2 separate regions of the Homo sapiens genome follow, and region 2 is linked to region 1. The links come from fine-mapping of genetic effects on gene expression. Tissue or cell type: unexposed skin. Region 1 holds a variant in brackets; the other region holds the start of a gene. All regions are shown on one strand. Distances are from middle to middle. Region 1 has its middle 20 kb from the start of TMEM132B. Region 2 holds the start of TMEM132B (transmembrane protein 132B).

Region 1 (8,324 bases):
ATCGCTGCATGGCTAGCTTCCTCTCACCTTTAAGGCTTCTCCTGAAATACTGCCTCCTCTGAGACCTTGTCTGACCACCCCATTTAAAGAAGACCTCCCACCCATGAAGCTAGTGATCTACCATGTTTTACTGTCTTTATAGCATGTGTCATTCTCCTAAGTTATTTGATTTATTAATTCACTTGATGGCTTATTTCCTCCCCTGGAATACAAGCTCTACTGCTGCAGAAACTGTCTTTTCATCACTATTTCCCTGAGACTAGAACAGTTCCTGGCCCAGCACAGACACTCAGGAAATATCTGTTGACTGAATGACTGGAAAATTCCTTTGATCAGCCAGTGGTTGTTTTTATTTCTTCCATGGGGAATAAAAAAAGCACTGAAAAAAGGAATAATTCATAGAAAAATGAAAATCCTAAGCAATAGTGAGACATCCATTTGCATAATGACAAGCATCTGATTTTTAATATAATTCCACCTCCGAAGTGAAATGTTCGCTATTCAGATGCAGCCAGGCCCCATGAAAGGGCTCAGATACACAGGAGCAGCAGTTACAAGGGTGGGAGTCAAAATCCTCCAGCGGCTGCTTCCCCGCCATCCCAACAGTCTCAGCTGCTGCCATCTAGAACTTGCCAGCTATTCCCGACACTGTCAGCTGTCTAATCCAACACCCGTTCCCAACTTCTTTCTTTCTCCCTTGCCTCCTCGCTCTAGAAGGGGTGGGAAAGCTAAATACCCCCTGCCGCAGACTCTCTTGCAGTTCTACTTCTGTCCCGTGAGATGAAATAAAACAGTCTGGAGATCATCTGGGGATCTCTGCTGCTGGCTCTGAAGATGGAGGAGCCCAATGAGAAGACACGTAGGGGGCCTCTAGGAGCTAAAAGCAGCCCTGGCAGACAGCCAGCAAGGCTACCTAAAAAAAGAACAGCGGTGCCTGACCAGGACCTATCCCTTTTTCCTGCTTAAATGTAGCCTTGATGGCTGGAGTCACAGCAATCATTTTGTGACCATGAGGAGAAGGGCAAGAGAATCACAGAGATTTTTGGTCCTTATGTCACTAAGCAGCTTTATCATTACCCATAAATAACCACCTCTAGAATTCTTGGTATATGAGAAAAATAAATCCTAACTACTCCACAGTGGTGGGGTTTCCTGGTGTTTGCAAGCAAAAACATTTCTTGCTAATATGCTGACTGTATGGGTACAAACAGCTTCGCTTAAGTGAATGAAAACTGTCTTTTGCCCAAAGCAATTGCATACCCATTATCCAACCTCATCATGGCAATATCCCCTGAGAGTTTGCATGGGCAGACTTTATATCCCCCACGTTAGGCAAAAAATCTGAGATTCAGAGAGATTAAGTGACCTGCCCCAGCATCACACCATGCAATGAAACTTGAAACTCAGAACTAAAACCTGGGCCAGGCACAGGCATTCACGCCTGTTATCCCGGCACTTTGGGAGGCCAAGGTGGGAGGAAAACTTGAGCCCAGGAATTCAAGACCAGTCTGGACAATATAGTGAGACCCCATCTTTACAAAAAATATATAAAAATTAGCTGGGCATGATGGTGCATGCTTGTGGTCCCAGCTACCTATGAGGCTGAGGCAGAAGGATCACTTGAGCCCAAGAGGTTAAGGCTGCTGTGAGCTATATCATGCCACTGCACCCCAGCCTGGGTGGCAGAGCAAGATTTCGTCTCAATAAATAAATAAATACTAAAACCTGGACTTCCAAATTTCCAATGCAACTTACAGAGAGACAAGAACCCATAATATAAAACAAGATCCCTGGGGCAGCTCTAATAAACCTAAAAAGAAAAACTTTCGTTGTAAATTTCTGCTTTAGGCTAAGAGAAAACTGTCATAACCCACTTAGAAACCCAGGACCCAAGTATTCCAGTCTCGAAGTAGTGTTGTGGTCAATGAACACTGTCCCTCAGCCAAAAGGGAACTCCAACGTAACTTACGGTCCTTATTTGCATTTTTTTTTTTTTTTGAGATGGGGTCTTGCTCTGTCGCCCAGGCTAGAGTGCAGTGGTGCGATCTTGACTCACTGCAACCTCCGCCTCCCGGGTTCACGCCATTCTCCTGCCTTAGCCTCCCGAGTAGCTGGGACCAAAGGCGCCTGCCACCATGCCCGGCTAATTTTTTGTATTTTTAGTAGAGACGGGGTTTCACTGTGTTAGCCAGGATGGTCTCGATCTCCTGACCTCGTGATCCGCCCGCCTCGGCCTCCCAAAGTGCTGGGATTACAGGCCTGAGCCACCGCGCCCGGCCCCTTATTTGCATTTCTTGAATGCTATAAAGGCAACACATGGTCCACAGAAATATTTCTTAAAATTCTCCTCCCCTCCCTGATCCATGTCCTTCACACTCCATACCTCCTCTAATTTCTCCAAACTCTCCCCAAACCTCTCCTCCCAGCCTCTTGGGTCCTTCTTCCTGTTCCACTTGTCAATTTATTGTCACTCGGCTCCAAACCCATCCTTCTTTGCCATGTTTGGTGATCCTGGAGCTGACCCCTGGAAACATTTCTCCTTTGCCAGCTGGTAGAATGTTCGGCTTTGTCCGTAGAAGGCATGGGTTACACTGTGCAGCTATACAGCAGGAGAGCCAATCCACTCTGGGTTCCTGTCCTCCTCTCCTACTGCAAGCAGCTCTTCTACCAGCAGCTCTCAGGCCAGCTTCTGTGACCCTCTCAGGCCATGCTCTCCTCACTTGGTGGCCATTTCCACAGTAGCCTTGAGGGACCCTCAGCTACACTGTCCCCACCCAGTGGCCACTTCTGCAGGAGCTCCAGCCATCCCCTCAGGCCATCCTCGCCCCACCCAGCAAGCAGCTTCAACCAACCACCTTTGACTCTGCCCTTGAACCATGCTCTCCCCACCTGGTGGGCATTTCTTAGAGAACAGCTGTGGCCACTCACATGCTCTGGCAATAGCAGATGGTGTATATGGACTAGCTGCAGGCTTCGTCGTCTGACAGTGTCCTCATCCAGCAAACTGCATGTTCTTGTAGTAGCTACATTCTCTTCGGAGAGGGCTGGTTCTTGGTCTCAGGGACTAGAATAGTTCTATATTCTTCACTTTCCATTTCCCCTCAGTCTAGAGGGAGTAATAACTTTTTTTTTTTTTTGAGACAGAGTCTCCCTCTGTTGCCCAGGCTAGAGCGCAGTGGTACAATCTCGGCTCACCGAAACCTCTGCCTCCCAGGTTCAAGCGATTCTCCTGCCTCAACCCCCCGAGTAGCTGGGACTACAGGCATGTGCCACCATACTCAGCTAGTTTTCATATTTTTAGTAGAGACGGGGTTTCACCATGTTGGCCAGGCTGGTCTCGAACTCCTGACCTTGTGATCCACCCGCCTCGGCCTCCCAAAGTGTTGGGATTGCAGGTGTGAGCCACCACACCTGGCAGTAGTAACTTTTTTATACCTAATATTTCTAGACCCCTTAGAGTCCTCTTTGACTCCATTAGTAAGTTAAGCACATCTTACTAGTTAATAATTCTTTTTTTGTTGTCTTGTCTTTTGTGTGTGTGTGTGTGTGTGTGTGTATGTGTGTGTGACAGTCTCTCTTTGTCACACAGGCTGGAGTGCAATGGTGCTATCTCGGCTCGCTGCAATCTCCGCCTCCCAGGTTCAAGCAATTCTCCTGCCTCAGCCTCCCCAGTAGCTGGGACTACAGACAGGTGCCACTACGCCCAGCTAATTTTTGTATTTTTAGTAGAGACGAGGTTTTGCCATGCTGGCCAGGCTGGTCTCAAACTCCTGACCTCAGGTGATTCACCTGCCTCGGCCTCCCAAAGTGCTGGGATTACAGGTGTGAGCCACCACACCTAGCCCTGTCGTCTTTTTTTTTTTTTTTTTTTTGAGACAGGGTCTTGCTCTGTCACCCAGGCTGGAGTGCAGTGGTGCTATCATAACTAACTGCATCCTCAGTCTCCTAGGCTCAAGCGATTCTCCCACCTCAGATTCCCAAGTATCTGAGACTACAGGCACGCATCACCATGCCCAACTGTTTTTTTATTTTTTGTAGAGACCCAAGCTGGTCTCAAACTCCTGGCTTCAAGTGATCCTCCCGCCTTGGCCTCCCAAAGTGCTGGGATTACATGTGTGAGCCACCATGCCCAGCAATAATTCTATATATTGGACTGTCCCAGTTCAAATTACCAATGTAGAATCAGTCAGGGTCTCCTGATTGGACCCTGGCTGATACAGAACTAGTTAAGAAAGTGGTTCTAGATACATACAGACCTCCAGGAGTGGGAGTTGGAGACTCGTCATGCCTTTGGAGTTGAGTGCCATGCTGGGATTTTGACCATGTGAAATGGGACACCAGTGACCCATAGCATGCAGTGCCATCACAGCGAATCAGCCACACCATCACCTGTGGTTGATTCTGACAAAGTGCTGACTGAAGCACATGCCTTGGGAAGGTAGGTGGCTGAGGCACTTGACATGATGCCCGTGACGATGCCCTCAAGGGCTGCAGTGTGGGATGGATGCTTCTGTGTGCACTGGAGCATCTACAGGAAAATAAAATAGAATCTCAGGTCCCTTAACTCATATCAAAGCACAGTCCTAGGGCCAAAGAGCTTCCCCGATGCCCTCAGTGAAAATTCTTATTTATTGTAGCCTGGCTTATTTACATTAGCCAGGGCTAGTGCTACTGAAAATAAAAAACACAATTGAATTGTGTGGGTTATGGAATTACACTAGGTGGATTCACAGCCTCACCACACTTCTCATGTGAAAGGTAGGACATTAAGGCCAGGCGCAGTGGCTCAGGCCTGTAAACCCAGCACTTTGGGAGACCAAGGCAGGTGGATCACCTGAGGTCAGGAGTTTGAGACCAGCCTGGCCAACATGGCGAAACCCCATCTCTACTAAAAATACAAAATTTAGCCAGGTGTGGTGGTGGGTGCCTGTAATCCCAGCTACTTGGGAGGCTGAGGCAGGAGAATCGCTTGAACCTGGGAGGCAGAGGTTGCAATGAGCCGAGATCATGCCATTGCACTCTAATCTAGGCCATAG[A/G]GCAAGACTCCATCTCAAAAAAAAAAAAAAAAGGTAGGACATTAAAAGGGATGCTGAAGCTTAGAATGGGGACATCTGGTGGGACTCAGATGAAACTGAGAATCTTGAACCCACAAGTCACTCTGAGCCTCTGTTGCCAAAGGAAGGAGCTTGCTCTGTTGTGTCTAAGGAGACTAGCTGTCCTTTTCTTGAAAACTGTATGACAATCTCACGTGAGGAGATGCCCATTCTCCTTCAGACCCACCACAACTACTACCTGTTGGCACCAGACTCATAAGTAGAATCTTAGATTTTTAGTACCCACTATGGCCTCAAATGAGATAGCTTTTACACCAAGAGAACTGCACGATTTTGCCAATATATATTGGCAGAAACCTAAGGAGTATGTGAGGGTGTCAGACCAAGGCAGGCAGAAGAACAGGAGCAGACTGAACTCACTGACCGAGGTGCACTAAGATTTTGGATATCATGGGTTAGTTTCCTTAGCTGGAGGTGGCTCTCAAAGCTTACTTGGTTGGTGGCTGGAACTAGGACTCCATGGTGGCCTAAGTTTAGTGAGCAGAGATGCCAGAGCTACCCTGGCATGCTATGGAGGAGGGAGTCCAAAGGCTTAGGGAGATTGGAGTGTTGAAAGGATTTACCATGGCAACCTGCACACCCACCCACCAACTACATCCCCCAGGAGACCCCAGAAAATGCTTTCTCTATGAAGGAGCTGAGAAATACATTCATGGGGGGAACACCTGCATCCTTAGAAGGTCTGTGGCTTTCTCCTTTATAGGCTAGGTATGATGGATCGGGGGTGTGCCCACCATTGATATGAGCTCCCAAGAGCAGAAGCCAAGAGGCAGTGCCCAACCTCCAGACGCAGTGCGAGCATACCCGCCATAAAGGACCGCACGACATGCCTGTGGTCAGCAAGCCCTGGCCTGTAGGAGGTTTGGCAAAGACTAACTGTCCCAAGATCCCTGCGACTGAAACAGATGAGAAGCCCGCCAGAGTATTGCTTGGGGACTCATTTCACAACAAAGGGAGTGGAGCAATGGGTTCAGGCCCATAGAATTAACCTCAAGGAGAAGGAAAAGAGTCAGAGGCACAGACGACAGGAGAGGCAAGAAACCAGCAGCCCCAGAGAAAGCAGCAAAGAGACAGCAGGTACTGTTGACTGTCCAGTTCCCAGGAGGCCAAGCTGTGTGTCCTGCCCTGGGGCCCCGTGTGAGACCCTGATAACCTCATGAGGCTGGGTGGTATCATGTGGGCTTTGTATTCTTTCCCCCTGTCTAGCAGATAATAGATCTGTGATTACTGGCTCAGGGCAGGGATGTGACTTTCACAAAAGCAGATACAAAAGCCTTTAAGTTTCATCCTTCTGTTTCTCTTTCTTTTTCTTTTTTTTTTTTTTTTGAAATAGAGTTTTGCTGTGTTGCCCAGGCTGGAGTGCAGTGGTGCGATCTCAGCTCACTGCAACCTCCACCTCCCTGGTTCAAGCAATTCTCCTGCCTCAGCCTCCTGGGTAGCTGGGATTACAGGCATGTACCACCACGCCCAGTTAATTTTTGTATTTTAGTAGAGACAGGTTTTCACCATGTTGGCCAGGCTGGTCTCGAACTCCTGACCTCAAATGATCCACCCGCCTCGGCACCCCAAAGTGCTGGGATTACAGGTGTGAGCCACCACGCTCAGCTTCCTTTTTTCTTTTTTCTTTTCTTTTTTTTTTTTTTGAGATGGAGTCTCACTCTGTTGCCCAGGCTGGAGTGAAGTGGCACGATCTCAGCTCACTGCAACCTCCGCCTCCCAGGTTCACGCCATTCTCCTGCCTCAGCCTCCCGAGTAGCTGGGACTACAGGCACCCGCCACCATGCGCGGCTTTTTTTATATTTTTAGTAGAGACGGGGTTTGACCATGTTAGCCAGGATGGTCTCGATCTCCTGACCTCATGATCTGCCCGCCTCGGCCCTGCAAAGTGCTGGGATTACAGGCGTGAGCCACCGCACCCAGCCTTCTTCTTTTTGTTTTTCAAAGACCCTAGCTCTTAGGTTCTGGAATCATAAAATGAAATGTCCATGGGAATCAGGCTAACTGCCGTATGTGAGTGAAATGGGGCCGGTGCAGGGCAATAGGGAGTGGACTAGACTGCAGTAAACTGGAGAGTGAACGCTCTGCTTCAAGACGTTCCAATTTAATCTTTTAAATACAACACTAGGGAACAGGTATAGGACTCCAGATTGACTGGGATTTTTTGAAATCACGGAGGAATCAGGGCTCAAAATAGAAATAAATCTGAGTGGTAGAAAAAGGAACGGGAATTGCTGCGGTAGACACCTGTCTTGTGTGTCCCCCTCCGTACGTTTGGAGAATCCCCCACTGTCTGAGTCTTCATGAGACACAGCAGCTGCCTCGCACAATAAATGCCAAATAATTTTAAAATAATAATGGTAGGCCGGGCACGGTAGCTCACGCCTGTAATCCCAGCACTTTGGGAGCCCAAGGCGGGCGGATCACGAGGTCAAGAGATCGAGACCATCCTAGCCAACATGGCGAAACCCTGTCTCTACTAAAAATACAAAAATTAGCTGGGCGTGGTGGCACCGCCTATAGTCCCAGCTACTCCAGAGGCTGAGGCAGGAGAATCGCTTGAACCCAGGAGGCGGAGGTTGCAGTGAGCCGAGAGCATGCCACTGCACTCCAGCCTGGCGACAGAGCGAGACTCCATCTCAAAATAATAATAATAATAATAATAATAATGGTAATAGCTAAAATTTAAAATGCTTACTCATCACCTCTTCTACACGCTTCACATATATTCTGTTATTTAGTTCACATAGCCCCCTCCCCCCACAGAGGTAGGCATGACTACACTATCCCCGTTTTGTAGATGAGCAAGCCGAGGCATGCATGGCGTCCAGGCTCACACAGATATGTGGCAGAGCCTGGATTCAAACCCAGTCTGGCTCCAGCATCCACGCACTTAATGCCTTGCCACCCCTCCAATGAGGGTATTAGCTTGTGACAGAGCTCGGCCAACCAGACTTGGAATCTGGAGCAATTGATCTGAAGAAGCAGAGACAGGGAGAAGCTATTCCGGTGTCAGCAACAATGTCGAATATCCAGGGACAGCAGGGCGGCGGTGATGATCAGCTCTGATGTTCTCTGGCTCTGTCGCCCATTGCCCGGCAGCAGTGGTAGCGACGGCCTCATCAGGCGAATTCCGTGGCATGCTTCCCTTTGTCTGCACGTCTTCTTTGGAGTCTATTTTTGCAGTTTCTCAACAACTCTGCGAGCTCTCCA
Region 2 (8,324 bases), 21 kb before region 1:
CCACCACCACCCCTTCCCTGTCACCATCACCACCCCTTTCCCGTCACTGTCACCATCACCACCACCCCTTCCCCATCACCATCGCCACCCCTTCCCCATCACCATCACCACCCCTTCCCCACCACCACCACCACCCCTTCCCCGTCACCATCACCACCCCTTCCCATCACCATCACCACCCCTTCCCCATCACCATCACCATCACCACCACCACCCCTTCCCCATCACCACCCCTTCCCCGTCACCATCACCACCCCTTCCCCATCACCACCACCACCCCTTCCCCATCACCATCACCACCCCTTCCCCATCACCATCACCACCCCTTCCCCATCACCACCCTTCCCCATCACCATCACCACCCCTTCCCCATCACCATCACCACCCCTTCCCATCAACATCACCACCCCTTCCCATCACCACCCTTCCCCATCACCATCACCACCCCTTGCCATCACCATCACCACCCCTTCCCCATCACCATCACCACCCCTTCCCCATCACCACCCCTTCCCCATCACCATCGCCACCCCTTCCCCATCACCATCACCATCACTATCACCATCACCACCCCTTCCCCATCATCACCATCATCACCCCTTCCCTATCACCATCACTATCACCATCACCATCACCATCACCACCCCTTCCCCATCACCATCACCACCCCTTCCCATCACCATCACCACCCCTTCCCACCACCACCCCTTTCCCATCCCCATCACCACCCCTTCCCATCACCATCACCACCTCTTCCCATCACCACCCCTTTCCCATCCCCATCACCACCCCTTTCCCATCACCATCACCACTAAGACTTGCTCTCTAACTTTCGGATTTGACACTGGCTGTCTTGGCCAGGCCAGGCGGCTGTCATTCTCATGACCTTGGGATCCTTGTATGGAGTCACAGTTCCCTAAAGGACTGTATGGTAGAACTCCTCTACCAGAAGAGCTCCCAGGTACAGGGTTAGAAAGTCATAGGTGAGGAGTTAAGGAGAGGGGAGCCCAGGCCTCCAATTCACTGTGTGACCCTGAACAGGCGGTCCCTGTGCCCAAGTCTCCTTCCCATCTGCCGGGGGCTGCTGAAGGAGGGGCTCTGAGGCACCCTCTTGCTCTAGAAGTCAACCCACCTACTCTGCTGAAGAGTTGGCAGCACCCCCGTCACCCACGGTACCAGGGTGCCTCCATCTCGCCACAGTGATTGCTGAGTCCCATGGCTTCAGGGGAAATGGACCCCCTCCATCCCCATTCAAATTGAGACACAGAAGAGAAGAAAGGAGCCACCCAGCCACATAGAGCTGGGAGACGCATCTGGGAACAAGGCCCCTGAAAGGGCTTTGCCGGCCCAGAGACCACCCCCACCCCAGACTCCCAGCCAACAAATGAGGGTTTTCTTTTGCTCCCTTGGATCAAGGCAACCACCGTGCTCATTGTTGGCTCTGAGTGCAGTAGCTCATGCAGAAGCCCCACGCCTCCCCAACTCCCTGCATCCGGTGGGAGGAGAGGGGATGAAATGATTTACTCTGGGAACCTCCACTGTGCAGCCATTAAATCACTGGAGAAGGCGACGACATTTGCATACCACTCCCCACCACTTCCCAATGCCACCTCTCTGAAGGGCAGCGCCACACACAGGCACCCCCCCCATCACTATTGTAATGAGAAATATACCACATGCCACACCAAGGTGCCAGGCAGGAGGAAGAGAGCCTCTGCCCTGAAAGCCAAAGCTCCCCCCTGCCACTCAATGTGGCCCCTCTGTCGTGGGGCAGGTGGGGGTGCTCCACCCACCCTGATTTCATAGACCCTAGACCCCCGTGCATAATGAGTCAACGAAGCAAGATTCGTTCATTTTCCTCAGCAGGGACTGTAACTGCACCGCTAATTTGCAAAGCCACAGCATGTACAAAAGTGGCTCGAATAATAGGGGCCCCCTAGTCGCTAAGCTGGGGGATTTGTGCTGACTCTTACCAAGTACAGTTCCATATGTTTAAGCACTTGCAAGGCTGAAAGAAGTACACCCACCCTACTCTTTACCATGGCAGCTACCCACGCAGGAAGGGGGGTGGGGGACAAAGAAGCCAGTCCCTGCGTGTGTGTGATGGGAGACAGTGTGCGCATCTTTGCCTCTGAACTCTTCCAGCCCCTCTTCCAGAGCCTCAGCCAAAGGGGGTCGGTAAACCATGGCAGAAATCACCCAGAAAATCCAACCAGCCCTGAAGGAAGCTCTGGTTAATTCCTCTGAACCTCTCAAAACCAAGTGTAGGCAGCTAAGTATCTTTCAGGAATTTCTTTTTTTCTTTTTTTTTTTTTTTTTTTTTGCCATCCCTCCTAACTAGTGCTAAATATAGAGTTATCAAACTGTCGTCTCTTTATGTCCCTGGTAGGGACCAGTTAAAGACTTGCATGTGCTTCCAGGGACGGGGCGATGGCACTGGGGGCTCTGCCCGGACGGCATTTGTCGGAACGAGCTGCCCTGCTGAGACTCTCCCAAAGAACAGCAGGGGAGCAGGCAAAGAGCCGGCCAGCAGCAGGTTTCAGTGGGAGCTCACCTTCCCTCCCAACATGGGGCCTTCCAGAGCCAGGCACAGGCTCTTCTGTTGCTGGGGGAGAGGGCGGGGGACGGGGGTGGGGGGGTGGTAGGGGGACCATCCTATTCTCTTACAAAGCATTATGCAGGCAGCTTCTCTGAGAGACTTCCGATATTCACTTATAAGCACATCCAGGCAAATGCTGACCCCCGTGGAGAAACAAAATAGAGACAAAACTGCAATTTTCAAGTCCGAGGGACTGCACTTTTGCAAACAGGTCCCAGGGCTTCAGCTAAGAGAAAACAGCCTCGGCCCCAGCAGCAGCCCCTCTCGTGGACCGCAGAGGAATGCCGAAAGCAAAACAGCTATCATAGCTGCTCCTTAGCCAAGCAGGCAAGATTCATCCACGTTAAGCCCAATGCCATTCTCTAGGCTGAACCAAAGCCGAACGCTGACGGAGATCTCCAATAGAAGGTTTTCTTCAAGTCGAAGGTGTTGGTAAATATTTTGGGTCACTTAAGGGCATCTCAAAGGAAGCCGACACTGACTTTTTCCATGCAAATAAAATACATCGAACATCAAGTTGACATGCCAGGTTTGCTCCTAACTGCAACCTTACCAAGACAGTGAAAGCCGAAAAGTTATAGTTGTATTTTTCTACTGCATTCTGCCTGTCTGTGCGATTTGTTTGTTAAGGAAATGGGGAGAGATTTTCTAAAGCAAAAGCTACCTGTTCCCAAATCATGGGTCTTGATTTTAAAAGGTTTGGAGAACTGAGATTTCAAAAGCACATGAAGGCTGCTCGTGACTGTTCCCGGGGTTCATCTGAGCCTTTAGGATTTTCTCCACTGCTTGCATGGGGTGGGGGGAGGGGAGGAATTGTCATTTTAGGATACGCTTTCTATAGAACCAACATGTAGCCACACCAAGGTGGGTAGAAAGCTTTCCAAACTCCAGCGAAGACAGACAATACCTGACTATTTTGCTTTTCCCACTCACTAGGATTGGGCGACAGCTGAGCTGGTTCAGCAGGGAGTCCAGCTCCCCGGTGCCCAGGCAATGGCTCTGGACAGCACCGCGTTCCAGGCTCCCCGGCGCGTCCTGGACTGCTTGGCCGCGGCTACCCTCTCCCGCCCGCCTTGGGGTCAGGGCGCTGGAGTAGACCGCGTTTGCAGGAGGCGCGCAGCGGGCTGCTCTTTGGCCAAGAGGAGGCCATTTGGCGAGGGTGGGTAGCTTGGGGAGGGCAGTGTGAAAGCAGGGGAGGGCCGCGGGGCGTGGGGAGGGGCTGCGGACAAGCCAGACAGCGCCGGCCGAGACATCTCCGGGGCCCGCAGGTGTCCCGGGAACGCACCACTGTGCGACCGCGGGCAGCAAGACACTGGAGAAGGGCTGCGTCGACGCCCCCGCCCAGCAAAACCCCTGGAGGAACTGGGACCTGGGGGGGATTTGGCCCAAGGCAGGGCGGGGAGGGGGCTCGATTCCTGCAGTCGCGTCCCCACCCGCCTCGAGAGGCTGAGTGCCCCGGTCTGTGGCCCCCGTGCGTCCCGAAAGGATCCGCAAGGAAGCTAAGGGTTTGGGGGAGAAGGCAGGCGGGCTCTCCCCAGGCGCTAGGCAAAGGGGAACGCGCCGGGGGCTCCTGGGTTCCCAGGGTCTCCCCAGGTCTGTCCAAGTCCGGGAGATGCGCGCTGCCAGGGACTTGAGAAGGAGGTAGCCGCCCGTTCACCCAACTTTGTGCGCCTCGGCCGGGGTCGGGGATGGGGTCCGGGGACGCGTTACCTGGGCACTGGAGCGCAGTCAGCGCCAGCAGGAGCCCGAGCGGCGGCGCCCGGCCCGGGGGCGGCATGGTCCTCGGCGCGCGGTGGGTGCGGCGCGGGGCTGCTCCTCTCGCGCGCCCGGCCCGGCCCGCGGCTCCCGGAGCAGCCCCCGGCGGCTACGCCCGGGCGCCGGGCATGGCTCGCTCCCAGCGCGCCGCTCCTCCCCAGACGCATGCGCCGGCGCTGGCGGCGCTTCCTCGGCTGCGCCTCTGCGCGCTCTCCTGGGCTCGGCCGTGCGTGGCTGGGGAGCTGGGGCGGCCGAGGCTCAGCGCCCCGCGCCCTGGCCGGCTGCCCCGCAGTTGGCCCGAGTTGCGCGGCCCCCGCCGCCGCCGCCGCCGCGGCTCCTGCGCCCCAGCGCCCGTCCCATCCCGGTCGCGCCGCCGCCGCCGCCGCCGCCTCTGCCATCGCCATCTGCCGGCCGCCCCTCGAGCCAGCGAGAGAGTGAGCGAGCGAGCGAGCGCCGGGGGGAGGAGGAGGAGGAGGAGGAGTAGGAGGAGGAGGAGGAGGAGAGGAGCGGAGGGCGGGGCCGCGGCCGGGGGAGGGGCCGCCCGGGAGCCGGGGCACAGGCGGCAGCCCGGCCAGTAGGCGGCGGGACGCGCCACTGCTCGGCGGTTCGGGGGAGGGCGCCCGGCCGGGAGGCTCCGGGAGCCCGCCGGGGGTCGCGGGCGCTCGCGGGTACAGGGGCTGCGGGAGGGGTGCGCAATGCAGAGAGGGGATGCCCAGCTAGATCCGGCGTCTTGGGGCGCAGCGGTAGGAGTTGCCAAGGTCGAGGGGTGAGGAGGCCAGCGGAGGGTCACCGGGATGGGGCAGCGACCTCTGGAGAGGTGGTGTCTGCCGGGGCCAGAGACTGCAAGACTGAGCGCGGACAGGAGGTCCCGGGTTAAATGTGGCACAGCTAGGGAGTGCCTGTGGGAGAGGGGAGAGGAGAGAGGGGAGGGCCTCCGGGAGGCCGAGGCTGTGTGCAGAGCCTCTGCACGGCACCGGGATGGGGGCTAGGGGTGCGCAGGCTGGGTGCGGTGACCTGAAACACAGCGAAGGCGGCCTGGGGATGGCCACCCGGGTGAGGCAGGGTCCCTTATTTACCCAGGCTAGAGGATGCGCCTTCCCATTTCGCGCAGGCCCTAGGAGCACGCGGAGGCAGCCAGGAGTTCTCCTGGGAAGGGCAGATTCCCTGGCGGTCCCGGGAATGAGTTCCCAGCGCAGGGTCAGGCAGTGACGGAGCGGAGGTGTTGCGCAGGGCCGGGTACTAGGTGGTCGAATTCTTCCATCCAGGGGCAGGGACGCAGCCAGAGTGCGGAGGGAGGTCACAGGTCACACGGAGCCCCAGTACCTATTATCCCAGAAACCACTGATCCTCCTGGGCGCCCCACCCCCAACCAGGGCAAAGCCACGGGGGGCTAAGCCGAATGAATGAGTCATGCTGGGAGCATGTGGGGGAGCCTCCAGCAGCGCTCAGATGCCTTCAAGCTTCCCCACCACGCTGGGAGGACAGGGGATATGGGGGGTTGCCCACCTGGGAGGGTGGCTTGGAGTCCTGGCTCCGCCCCAGCCCCCACCACACCAGCCACTTGCTCTGCCATCTCAGTTTTCCATGAAAAAGTGGGTCAAACTCTTTGAAAATGGTCAATAAGGCAGCGTGGGGTGATGAAAAGACAGATTTGGGGAAGGCTCTGGAGTCATGGAGTCTTGGCTGAGAATCCCAGCTCTGCCGCTCCTTAGCTGTGCAAGCTGGGGCGAGTCCCTTATTCCTCCCTGAGCCTCAGTTTTCTCATCTGAGAGATGGAAGGCATTGCACATCACCTGGTGTCCCCAATAACACATACAAAGCCCCTGACCTAGGAAGTCGGAACTCATTTAAAGGAGTCAGTGTCAACATTATCATTCTCATCATCATGGCCATTATTATGATAGATCTGATTTTCCTCTGCGGGCCCAGAGCTCACATCAGAAGGACAATCCTCCCCACTCCCGGCTGCCAAGAGGGGATGGGGGACAGGGCACCTGCTTGATTAGTACAGACAAGCTCATTAGCAGAGGCAGCACTCAGTTCTTCCTAGATAAAAGAAGGAAGAAAGCCAGGGGCAGGTGGTGAGTCTCCAGCCCAGGTTAATTAGGAGACGTAAAGGGATTTTCCCGTGGCTGTTAATCGGCTTCCTTTACAAGGGGCCCATGCCCAGGCCAAGCCCCCTTTGGGCTCCCTGGCAAGGCCTGCAATGTGTGGAGAGCCATACAACAGGCTGGACGACGGGATTGGGGGTCTCCTCGGGCTTAGGGTGGCCTTGCGAGGGGCCCATCTGTCCCCTTTCTGTGACCCTTTCCCCAGATAAGAGGATGATCCTGGAGACGTGGTCAGGACTCTCTTAGGGTCCTCTGTGCCCGGCTGCCCCCAACACCTCTTTCCTGTTCACTTGTTCATAAGCATCTGCAGAGCTGAGCACCTACTGTGTGCCGGCCTCTGCAGGGGATGGTGAAGCAGAAATGAATGGACGACAGCAGGGGAGAGCCACAGCAGGAGTGACCGCGGGGTGCTGGTGCCAAGGTGAACCGTGTGTTTGACCAGGAAGCAGGTCAGTGAGGCTGGGAGACTGTGGCCAAAGATAAAAGTCATTTTCTGGCAGGGTAAGGGGTCATTCTGTGGCTTTAGTGGCGGTGCTTGGAGAGGGTTGTGAATCAGTCCAGCAAGTCCCCAAGCCAGTGGTCACACAGTCCCAGGTGTGATGGCAGATGGCAGTTGCCTTCCCCCCAACCCCACACTCAGGACTACCTGGTCATACTCCAAGAAAGCACCTTTCAGTGGGGAAGGGCACTTCCCCATTAAAATATGCTGATGGTGGTTGAGCCAGACGCTGAAGAGAGGAATCTCCTTTTGAGGGTAGCTTTTCCATGCCCCAGCTGTGTGACTCTGGACAAGCCCCTAATCCTCTCTGAGCTCATACGTGGGGTAGGGATGAGAATTCCAGCCTGGCTCAGCCTGTCTTGTGGTTGGATGAGGATTTCTGCATATTAACCATGCCCCTAAGCCTGTATCTCTAAAGGGGGTGTTTCTGGAGGAAATAAGCAGGGGAAAAAAGCCTCCCTGGATTCTGAAGGGCGGGGGGGAATCTGAGAGGCTGGCGGCAGTAACGAGGAGACCCCAGGGCTGAGCGGAATTCTCCTCTCACTCCTACCTAGACTCTCGCCCCCAGCCTGCTGGCCTCATAGCCTGGGCAGGACCGTAAGAATTACACAGCCTACAATCTCCCCCTAAGTATAGATGGGATACTGAGTCCAGGAATTGTCCTTCTCCTGGATCTGTAAGTGTGGGGAGGCCGACTCGACTAACAGCCAGCCTCGAGCCCCAGCATAGCCATGCAAGGCTTCCTCAGGCCGCACCACCCCCTGCACAGCAAGAGACTGCCTCCAGCACGGATTGCTCCCGGTCCGTCCCCGCACCCCAGTTCTGCTGCAGCTCAGCCCACGCGCCCGCCGGGCTACCGGCGAAGAGCAACATTGCCATCTCGTGGCTGAAACTGGAACTGCAGGTCTGGAGGGCGCTGCAGAAGGAAGGTCAGGGTGGGGGTGCGGGTAGGGGTGAGATGGAGGCGAATAGGCAGAGAGGTTTCCCCACCTCAGCCAACTGGCAGCGGCAATAACAGACCCCTTTGCCCTTGAACGCCAACACGCAGGCAGCTGCTGCCGTGGTGACCACCCGTTGAAATTCTTTGCAAAGCCTGGGACTGTTTGTTGTCCATTGCACACATCGATGTTTCTGGCATGTTCAGGGAACACAGAATTGACTTAGATTGCATTTGCACCACAGGTGAGTGGTAGGGGAAAGGGGCCTCTCAAAATAGAAGCCAAGCTCACTTATACAGGTAATCAAGGATTTACTAAGAATAAAGAATTTCAAGAAATCAGTTACTTGCACACCTGGACATATGGACCCATGATGGAAGGAAGGAGCCTCTTTATGGCAACTTGCAGTCATCCATATCACT

The links.
Region 2: it holds the start of TMEM132B, and the variant in region 1 is fine-mapped to the expression of TMEM132B in unexposed skin (GTEx, PIP 0.99). The same link has a PIP of 0.9 or more in lung and thyroid.

The regions. Positions count from the first base shown.
Region 1 is chr12:125,162,318-125,170,641 of GRCh38, reverse strand. No RefSeq gene overlaps it. Among named protein-coding and RNA genes, the nearest start is that of TMEM132B, 20 kb to the left of the region's middle. The variant A/G (reference allele first, on the strand shown) is at 5,037.
Region 2 is chr12:125,182,852-125,191,175 of GRCh38, reverse strand. It overlaps TMEM132B (transmembrane protein 132B), which reads right to left and starts at 4,790. Exons shown (of 9, transcript NM_001366854.1): 1 at 4,310-4,790. The coding sequence starts at 4,376. RefSeq lists a silencer at 4,798-5,007 and an enhancer at 5,056-5,589.